Linked DNA regions of Homo sapiens: regions 1 and 2 are each reported to be linked to region 3. Evidence: microRNA targets listed by miRTarBase, many of them from high-throughput screens and not tested one by one. Region 3 holds a microRNA gene; each other region holds the end of a gene's coding sequence.
Evidence for each region. The annotated mature microRNA hsa-miR-6747-3p reads UCCUGCCUUCCUCUGCACCAG and lies in region 3 at 1,682-1,702, opposite strand. An mRNA with a match to its seed (bases 2 to 7 or 8) in the 3' UTR can be bound and repressed. Matches are read on the target gene's strand: a 7mer-m8 pairs with bases 2 to 8, a 7mer-A1 pairs with bases 2 to 7 and ends in A, and an 8mer does both.

Region 1 (3,141 bases), not on the chromosome of region 3:
CTAGACTTCTTGTTTTGCAAGGTAGTGTATTTCCTTATTGTTTAAACCACTGGGTTTGGGAAGGGGGGCTTCTGTTGCTGGTGGTCCCAAGTAATTGGATAGTCCCTTTCCTCTAAAATAATATAACCTATTTTGCAGACTAGAGTACACACAGGCATGCGCACACATTGCTTCTGTCTTCCCCTGATTTTTAAATGAAACTAGCTCTTGGGTGAGAACTCACTTGGCCTCCCTCTGTCCTCCAGACCCAAGCTCCTTGGAGCAGTGTGTGTGCTCTGTATTCCCGAAGTACCCACCCCACGCCCCAGCACTGTCAATCACTTCAAGGCCCAGTTCAAAATCCACTTCCCACATAAAGTCTCCTGTTTAACCCCCAGCTGCATCTTTCTAGAATTCTAACATGTAGCGTGCATCGTCTCCAACTTTGTACATCTTGCCTGCTGATCCTCGTGTCCCCTCTGTGTGTCCACCCACCCCAGCCACACCACTGGCGCACAGCAACTGACTGGGCAGATGAGTGAATGCAAGGTCCTACTGTCCTGCACCTGAAACCTGGAGTTTTCCTTTCCTTTTTCTTCCTTGACTTCTTTCCTCATCTTCTCTGTAGAAGAGAAGACAAAAATTGAGATAAAAGAAATTTAGGCCGGGTGCGGTGGCTCGCACCTGTAATCCCAGCACTTTGGGAGGCCAAGGCAGGTGGATTACTTGAGGCCAGGAGTTCGAGCCTAGCCTGGCCAACATGGTGAAACCTCATCTCTACTAAAAATAGAAAAATCAGCTGGGTGTAGTGGTGTACGCCTGTAATCTCAGCTACTCGGGAGGCTGAGGCAGAAGAATTGTTTGAACCCGGGAGGCGGAGGTTGTGGTGAGTTGAGATCACGCCACTGCACTCCAGCCTGAGTGACAAACCAAGACTCTGTCTTAAAAGAAAAAAAGAAAAAAGAAATTCAGAGCTCCGACTCTGAAGGAAGAATAAATATTTTTAAAGAAAGCCAACAATGACATGCCCTACTTACTGGGAGTGACAGATAAGGGAAAGAATTCCAGTGGTACAGGGAAAGCAGCAGCTGGATGCTCCGCAAACCAGCTCCCAATTTTCTGTCTCCCACCACACACTGATCAGATCCACTCTTGAAACTGGGGGGTGGGGCAGGGACATCCTTAAAGCAGAAGTCACAGCAGGAAACACAGCAGAGTCCACCACGCGGCAGACAATCAAGAAACGTCAGGGAATGAGGGGACACAGCATCCTGTGGTGAGGGCTTTGGGCTTGTTCCCTGAAGCTTTTTATTATAAAAACAAGATGAAACATAGATCACATTGCAGTCTCGATTGTAATGAACCTCAGCTGAATGTGCCGACAGCGGAGTATCTGATCTAATGTGGACTTTGAAGCATTTTGAAATGAAAAAATCTTGGGATGTTTTTGTTTTTAAAATTCCTGTGGTTGTTCGCTAAATGGCAAAATAGGGGGCCACCAGCCGGACAGCTCCAGACCACCTACAGAAAGAAAGTCTCAGGCCATTATGAAGGCCGAAACGCTAACAGCCATCTTCTTCTGGGTGCACAGCCCTGCGGCCATCCCCACCGTGAGATGGTAGAAAGGGCGCGTGCAAGGATCAGCACCCAGTGTAGAAACTGACTTGTACCCCGAAGGTATGCAATGCGATCCCAACAGGCTCATTCCAGATATAAAAAATATGTCATCACTTTCATTAGGTAATATTAAACCAACACTAAGAACTTCTGCAAGATCTTTTATATTACACAGTAGAGTTAAAAACTGTAGTAAATGTTCAGATATTTAAATGAGCACCAAACACTACAAAGTGCAACCAACATGGTTCTATTAAAAACTCTCTTTGACTATGGCATTCAAGGACAGCAATACAATCTTTTTTTTTTTAACAAAGCAACTAATATAAAAATCTGCAAATGCCATATATTCATATCTAGGCTATTCTTCTCATATAGGCATGTCATTAGATAGACTTTCTTTCTATTCTTTCCTGAGGTATTTTTTTGTGGTTTACTTTTATTGTACTGCTGGATGCATTATTTTTGATCATCCTTTCCTAAAATGATTTAAAGACCTGCAAATAATTTTATTGCATAGGACACTATTGATGACACATAGAATGGGAGCTGCAAGTATGTGGCATTGGAACAAGCCTTACAAATATTGCATTTTAAGAATACACACATTTTTTACAGTTTGTCTCTTTTAAAAAATTTGAAGTTATAGCTACGACTTAACTACGTACAGTGAAGCATTTTAGGAATGTTAAGTGATTAAAGAAGAAGATGAATGATACAAAGAAAAGAAGCCACCATTCTTGCCAGCTATATATTGTATTCCTTCAAAAGCAACTATACATGCTGCCTTCAGTTCATAGTTAAATATTTCTAGTAATCTGTTTTGGGAGAACAAATGTCTTTCAAGGTTTCAAGTTCCTCTATAAGCTTCTTGTTCTGGACTTCCAGCACTGCAACTCGGCTCTCCAGACATTTTACATATTCTTTCTTTCGACGTCGACATTCTTTGGCAGCTTCCCTGAAAAAAAGCAGAAGCAAAGGGCAAACAAAGCATTTTTTGCATGCTATTGACAAACAGATCAAAGTAAGCTCGGTAAGTGTGATCACGGCTGCATTCCACATCCTGGAACAACATTCCCAATTCAATTTCAAACACTAATCCAAACTGGATTCTTAAGGGTCACACGTGTCCTTCCCACAAGTCCACATGGCAATAAGTAGGACTGCTGCATCTCCTGCCTTGATTAGAGTAAACAAGGTCCAAGTCAAAGACAGTTACTCTACTTTATGGCAATAAAGATCTTTGAGGGCCTTGAGTTCCTCAATGAGAGTCTTGTTTTGGTTTTCAAGCACAGCCACACGATTTTCAAGACATTTGACATATTCTTTCTTCTTCCTGCGACACTCCCGGGCAGCTTCCCTGGAAGCAACACAAGGCAAATGACTACAGGAACAGCCTTCCAACACAATCCACAGTGGGTCAGTGCACTTCTGCCCCCCGAACTCAACAGCCAATCGATCCTAGGTAAGGACTGTACAAAGCCACATAACAAACATAACCAGGCACATGCTTTTTGTAAGATAACCATTAGACAACAGGAATGA
Region 2 (3,141 bases), not on the chromosome of region 3:
TCCCACTTGTCAATTTTTGTTTCTGTTGCAATTGCTTTTGGGGACTTGGCCAAAAATTCTTTGCCAAGGCCAATGTTGAGAAGGGTATTTCCTAGGGTTGCTTCTAGGATTTTTATAGTTTGAAGTCTTACATTTAAGTCTTTAATCCATCTTGAGTTAATGTTTGCATATGGAGAAAAGTAAGGGTCCAGTTTCAGTCTTCTGCATATGGCTAGCCAGTTATCCCAGCACCATTAATTGAATAGAGAGTTCTTTCCTCATTGCTTTCTTTTGTTGCTTTGCCCATTTTCTAACTGTTGTGTTTTTCTTTTGTTTACTGATTTGCAAGAGCTTTGTAAATTAAGCATATTAAATTTTGTGTGTTGTATAGTTTGCAAATATTTTTCAAGTTTGTCTTTTCATTTTGAAGAAAATATAATCTAGAATAAGTACATTTTTGGGGTAAAAATTATGGCAATAATTTTTTATATACAAAATTTAGAGGCAAAATGAAAAAATTAGCATTGATTCTACATTTTAAACACAAGGGATTCATGTTTTCTTTCATCCTTTTTTATTTAAAAAACTTCAAAAGAAAATGAAGGGAAATATATATTAAATATCTAATTACTTGGACATATATAATGTATTAATGCATTCTTCTACTGATAGACATTCAGGTTGTTTTCAGTTTGGAGCTTTTTACAAATATCACTGTAGTAATTATCTACATACAGTTTAAACAATTCTTCATATCTTAATAAGTTTTAAAAGGTTTCTCCCACTCTTCCCTCCTGTGTTCCCAAGTACTTTTCTATTATTATCAGAATATGAGGCCCGGCACGGTGGCTAATCCCAACACTTTGGGAGGCCGAGGTGGGCAGATCACTTGAGGTCAGGAGTTAGACACCAGCCTGGCCAACAGGGAGAAACCCCATCTCTACCAAAAATACAAAAAGCAGCCGGGCGTGGTGGCACACACCTGTAATCCCAGCTACTTGGGTTCTGAGGCAGAAGAATCACTTGAACCTGGGAGGTGGAGGTTGCAGTGAGCCGAGATCACTCCACTGCACTCCAACCTGGGCAACAGAGTGAGACTCCATCTCAAAAAAAAAATATATATATATGTATATATGAGTTTGTGATTTCCACAAAATGAATCACTTTATTAATATATTTGGACAGAGTGCCCTGTAAAAGGCATAAGGCATTGCTTGAAGGCAATTTTGCTTATCTAGGGAAGTATATAAAAAATGCATTTCAAAGTTCCTTAGCATATTAATGGTCCTGATAAGTATTGCACGAAATACTAGGTTCCATGATAGGCACAAAAAAGAAAGGATCCAACAGTTAAATAAAATTTAAGGGACCACTACAACCTCCTTTTGGTGAGCCACAAAACTCAATAGTGTAGTAAAACCCCTGAGAATTCCTACACTAAAGCCAACTTTCTAATTTTGCTTATATAGGGTTTTATAAATTTATTTACCAGATAATTTTTCTTCCCTTTAACATCTGTTACCATGCCAAAGTAGTAGTGTTTCCCCTAGGAAAATACTAAAATAAAATAGACAGATTAGCACCACAGATAACCCAAATCTAGATATTACTATCATATAAGTTGTCTTACCTAAACATCAAACATTTCATCAGGGCTTTGGATAAGGAAACAGACTTGGTTCTCTCCTTTTTTAATCTTTGATAATAAATAAAGACACATCACAAATAACTCAGATTTTGAAATGTAGTGCCATGGTGGAAATAGCATGCTTTGAGGTCAGATAGACCTGAGTTACAACCCTAGGTTGGCCACTTACTACATATGCAGACTTGGATAAGTGATTTAACCTCTCTGCATATCAGTTTTCTCATAAGTAAAATGGGAATAGTAACATTCATCTTACAGTTGATGTGAGGATTAAATAAGATCATATATATCAAGTACACACCAAAGTGGCTGGCATATACAAAGTTTTATACAATATGTACACTTGTACACAGCAGAATTTCTGTAAGGGAAAGAACTGAAGACCTGGGAACCCACGAACAGATTGTAAGCTTCTGAATAATTGCTAGCTTTTTTCATGAGAATAGGATTAGAAGTTTCATCCGATCAGAGCTATAAGCTCTATGGTATTTCTATTACTAACATTCTTTTAATATTTAATTACACTGGGTTTATACCTGTGAGTGTTGCAAAAAGAAGGTCGTCGAGCTTTTCACCAGGCCAAAGAGAATCCCATGTGTAAAGTTGTCTGCCACTACTTAACAAACTCATAGCATTTTAGGAGGGTTACAGTGTAGGAAGGATGCTTTTTTGCCCTTAGTGGGGAAGACTAGGTTATTAACTGACATAATGGAGTCAGGCAAAAGAAAGCTATTTGTAATCTGTACCATTTCAGAGACCTGGAATGAAACAGGAGGAGGCTTATAATTCACAGTATGAGAGTAAATAACCTTAACGGAATGTTTGGGTGTCTGGATCCCCGGAGTTTTTTTCAGCACAAGTGACATAAGTGTGAGTTTGCAGGGAATAAGGGCATCTTTTTTTTCAGCACACTGCCAAGGGAAATTATGTATAGAACTTCTGCTTATGCATGCATTACAAGAGTGAAGAATTTAAAATCTTTTTCACCCAGGATAAGAACTTATTTCTTTTCTAGTTCTTCTCCCAAGCCGCCTTCTTAGCAGTCCAGGTGCCACTGTATGTGTCTCCCTCAGAATACTGACCTGTCTGAGAGATGCAGGAAATGTGAAAACTGCTATGTTTCCGTTTCCACAGCAAGAGATGATGAGCCTTCTGGATAATCTGCAAGGTTGAAACGTGAAGATGATCAAATGTCCCCGTGCCTTATATGGGTGGGTATTCATTCACTGGCAGTTTTCCTTCTTGTTCAATCTCTGCAGGCAACAGATACCTGCAAACCTCTAAAGACTGATGTGTAACACAGAAGCATTTGTAACCAGACATTCACATTCTAAGAATAGTCAGCCTGCTATACTATGAACTAAGATTATTTATCAGCATTATCTGATCTATAATACTGGCTGGTATTTGACTTAAATAGCTATGATGACAGCTCAACATAATCTGACTTTAATGGAATGTTTTGCATCTTGCTACCCACAAAATTACCCTGTTTTGCTGTTATTCCACCGGAC
Region 3 (3,141 bases):
GAGCCGTGATCACGCTACTGCACTCCAGATTGGACAACAAAGTAAAACCCTGTTTCCAAAAAAAAAAACCTTGGGGAAAGCATTTCTGGCAGCCCTGTAGGGCATCATGGTAACCCAATAAATAGACATTAATAAACATTCCCAAAACCATGTTAAGAAAATGTAAAGTTTATTAAATAAAGATTTTAAGTTTACTACTGCCTCATTTATTTCCTGCCCAGAGTACTGACCTACTATATGTGAAAATCTCTAGCTAATAATTAACAACGTCTGAGTTACAACACAATATGTAATTTGGGTTAATTATCATGACCTATTTACACACACCAAAAATCCTGCTCACTCTTGACCTGCACCTGTGCTAAATTCAAGGCAAATCACTAGTTCAAAAAATACATCTTTAAAGAGTGCCTGTGTCTGGATGGAGCCTTCCTGGTCTTGTACAAAATACCCGGGAGTAAGAACTTTCAGCTATACCCCAAGTTGCTCCCATCTATTAGTGCAATGCTTGTAATTCACAATTCTATGCACAGCTACTGTGTCCCTACCAGTGGGTGCTCCTTTAGGCTGGTTCACCCGGTATCCAAGCCATTACAAGATGGGAGAGGGTGAAATGTAAACCCTAGCAGACCAAGCAGTAAAAAGATGAACGGCTTTGGAAATGACAGGGTGAGTGGGAGGAAAAAGTACAGAGAAAGAGGAGTTCCAAAGCAAAGTGACCACAGAATATATATTTCTCAAACTGCTTGAACTCCCAATAAAATGACTTGGAGCAGTGATGGAAGAAAGACTCCATCCCAGAGAACTGGGCAAGCACTCAGCGTCCTACATTTTTCATGCCAAAAATCTCGTTTTTACTATATTATTTCTTCCAAGAAGCCCTACCTTTAACTGAAAAAGGGATACAGAGGACACCTACTTTCTTCTACTTGGGGACTTTACTCGGTTGTGGAACAATGAACTAGACAGACACTACTTAGCTATGATCTTCATCCTTTTTCTTAGTGAGCAATTTTTGTACAGTCTGATTCAGCAAAACAGAAAACAAAACAATTCAAAGGACCCTGCTCTGGCATCCACTATCTCCGCACAGCCGGGCGCGTGGCGCACCGCAAGGCTCTCTGCACTTTCTTCCTCCCCACGCCTCTCCCTGTATTTGTTCTCAGAGCTCTCAAATGGTCAAATGAGCTTGCTCAAAACCAACTTACCACTATATCAAAATCTGTTCCTGTCTTTGTTGGAATAGGAGTTCAATCTTCCCCAGTACTGGCTGTACTTGAAACTTGCTCTCCACAATCAAAATTTGCCCAATTCCTGATTATCAGCCAGAAAGCTGCTTTATTTGCAACTAAAATATACCTTTAACTTTATATGGACAACCTAAAATTCTGGCTCTAGCTGTGTGTGAGGGGGGACATACAGAGGTGAGAACAGGCCTTCTTTGGTCCCACACCCTCCACCCTCCAATATCCTTACCTCTTGGGCAGGTGAGCGAAGGGGTCCTTGGCCTTGGGCTCAGCAGCCAGCGCCTGCTCACATTCATCCATCTCCTCCTCAGGAGCAGGGGCAGCCGCCTTTTTCTCCTCCTTCCGCTCAGCCTGGGGCTTCTGCTTCTCTTCCCGTGAACCCTTCTCTTTCCGTGGTGTGTCCTTTTTAGGTTGGGTCTCTGCAAACTTTTTAGCTGGTGCAGAGGAAGGCAGGAAAGTGAACGAATGTTCTGCCTCTTTCCACACCCCTCCAAAACCACACAGAGCAAGCAAGGTAACAGAGGAAACTGACGAATGGGACAAGTAAGGAACTTAGGCCCCAGACTGCTCATCAGTTCACTGTGTGTCCTCCAGCAACAACACACTCAGCAACAAATACTTTATATCGCAAATCTATATAGTAATACAAATTAGTCAGGGTATGAGTGTACACGAAACTGCACATAATATTAGCTACCACATTGACACCCTACATTCTGCAGGTCCCCATAACCCAAAAGCAAGACAGGAAATCAAGGGGTTGATGCAGAGCAAACCAGACCCTGATCCTGGCCATATGCCTCCCAGTCTCCTCAGACTCACCATCAAACTGGGCCATCTTCTCACACAGTTTCACTTCGCCCAAGACAGCCCGGAACTGGGGCTGGTTAATGCAGGTGAGGAACCAGCGGTTGGTATTGGGAAAGGCCTGGCGGAAAGAAGGCTCTAGAACCTGCCAGGACATAAGGGTGTAAACAAAGTCAGTGGAAAGGCCCTGAAGAGTTCTGTTCACAGCAAGAGTCCTTGCTCTACCTAAGTCCCAGTGCTCACCTTCTTTTCAAACCCTATAGACAATAGCTTCATACAACATCATCCTTCCCTGGATTACTTCCCATTTCTTCATTTTTTTCAATTTTTTTTTTTTTTGAGACAGAGTCTCACTCTATCGCTCAGGCTGGGGTGCAATGGCGTGATCTCAGCTCACTGCAGCCTCCATCTCCTGGGTTCAAGTGATTCTCGTGCCTCAGCCTCCCATGCCTTAGCCTTCTGAGTAGCTGGGACTACAGGTGCCTGCCACCACACCCAGCTAATTTTTGTACTTTTAGTAGAGATGGGGTTTCGCCCTGTTGGCCAGGCTGTTCTCGAACTCTGACCTCAAGTGATCCGCCCACCTCGGCCTCCCAAACTGCTGGGATCTCCGAGGCGGGCGGATCACGAGGTCAGGAGATCGAGACCATCCTGGCTAACACGGTGAACCCCCATCTCTCCTAAAAATAAAAAAATTAGCTGGGCGTGATGGCGGGCAGCTGTAGTCCCAGCTACTCGGGACGCTAAGGCAGGAGAATGGCGTGAACCCGGGAGGCGGAGCTTGCAGTGAGCGGAGATCGCGGCACTGCATTCCAGCCTGGGTGACAGAGTGACTCTGTCTCAAAAAAAAAAAAATTAGCTGGGCGTGGTGGCACGTGCCTGTAGTCCCAGCTACTCCAGAGGCTGAGGCAGGAGACTCACTTAAACCCAGGAGGTGGAGGTTGCAGTGAACCGAGATCACGCCACTGCACTCCAGCTTGGGTGACAGAGTGAGACTCTGTCTCAAAAAAAAAAAAAAAAAAAAAAAATTTTAATAGAGATGGGGTCTCACTATGTTGCCCAGGCTTATCTTGAACTCGCATGCTCA

Region 1: the mRNA of CREM is a reported target of hsa-miR-6747-3p. Seed matches in the 3' UTR shown: 8mer at 2,770-2,777.
Region 2: miRTarBase lists ZDHHC15 as a target of hsa-miR-6747-3p. The part of its 3' UTR that is shown has no 7-base or 8-base seed match.

The regions. Positions count from the first base shown.
Region 1 is chr10:35,211,069-35,214,209 of GRCh38, reverse strand. It overlaps CREM (cAMP responsive element modulator), which reads right to left. Exons shown (of 8, transcript NM_183011.2): 8 at 1,257-2,956. The coding sequence ends at 2,812. Among named protein-coding and RNA genes, the nearest start is that of LINC02634, 32 kb to the left of the region's middle. RefSeq lists an enhancer at 2,364-2,923.
Region 2 is chrX:75,376,411-75,379,551 of GRCh38, forward strand. ZDHHC15 (zDHHC palmitoyltransferase 15) reads right to left here. Exons shown (of 12, transcript NM_144969.3): 11 at 2,710-2,788. The coding sequence ends at 2,742. Among named protein-coding and RNA genes, the nearest start is that of UPRT, 100 kb to the left of the region's middle.
Region 3 is chr11:62,565,330-62,568,470 of GRCh38, forward strand. MIR6747 (microRNA 6747) reads right to left here and starts at 1,742; the gene lies at 1,682-1,742. EEF1G (eukaryotic translation elongation factor 1 gamma) reads right to left here. Exons shown (of 10, transcript NM_001404.5): 6 at 2,070-2,199; 7 at 1,477-1,681.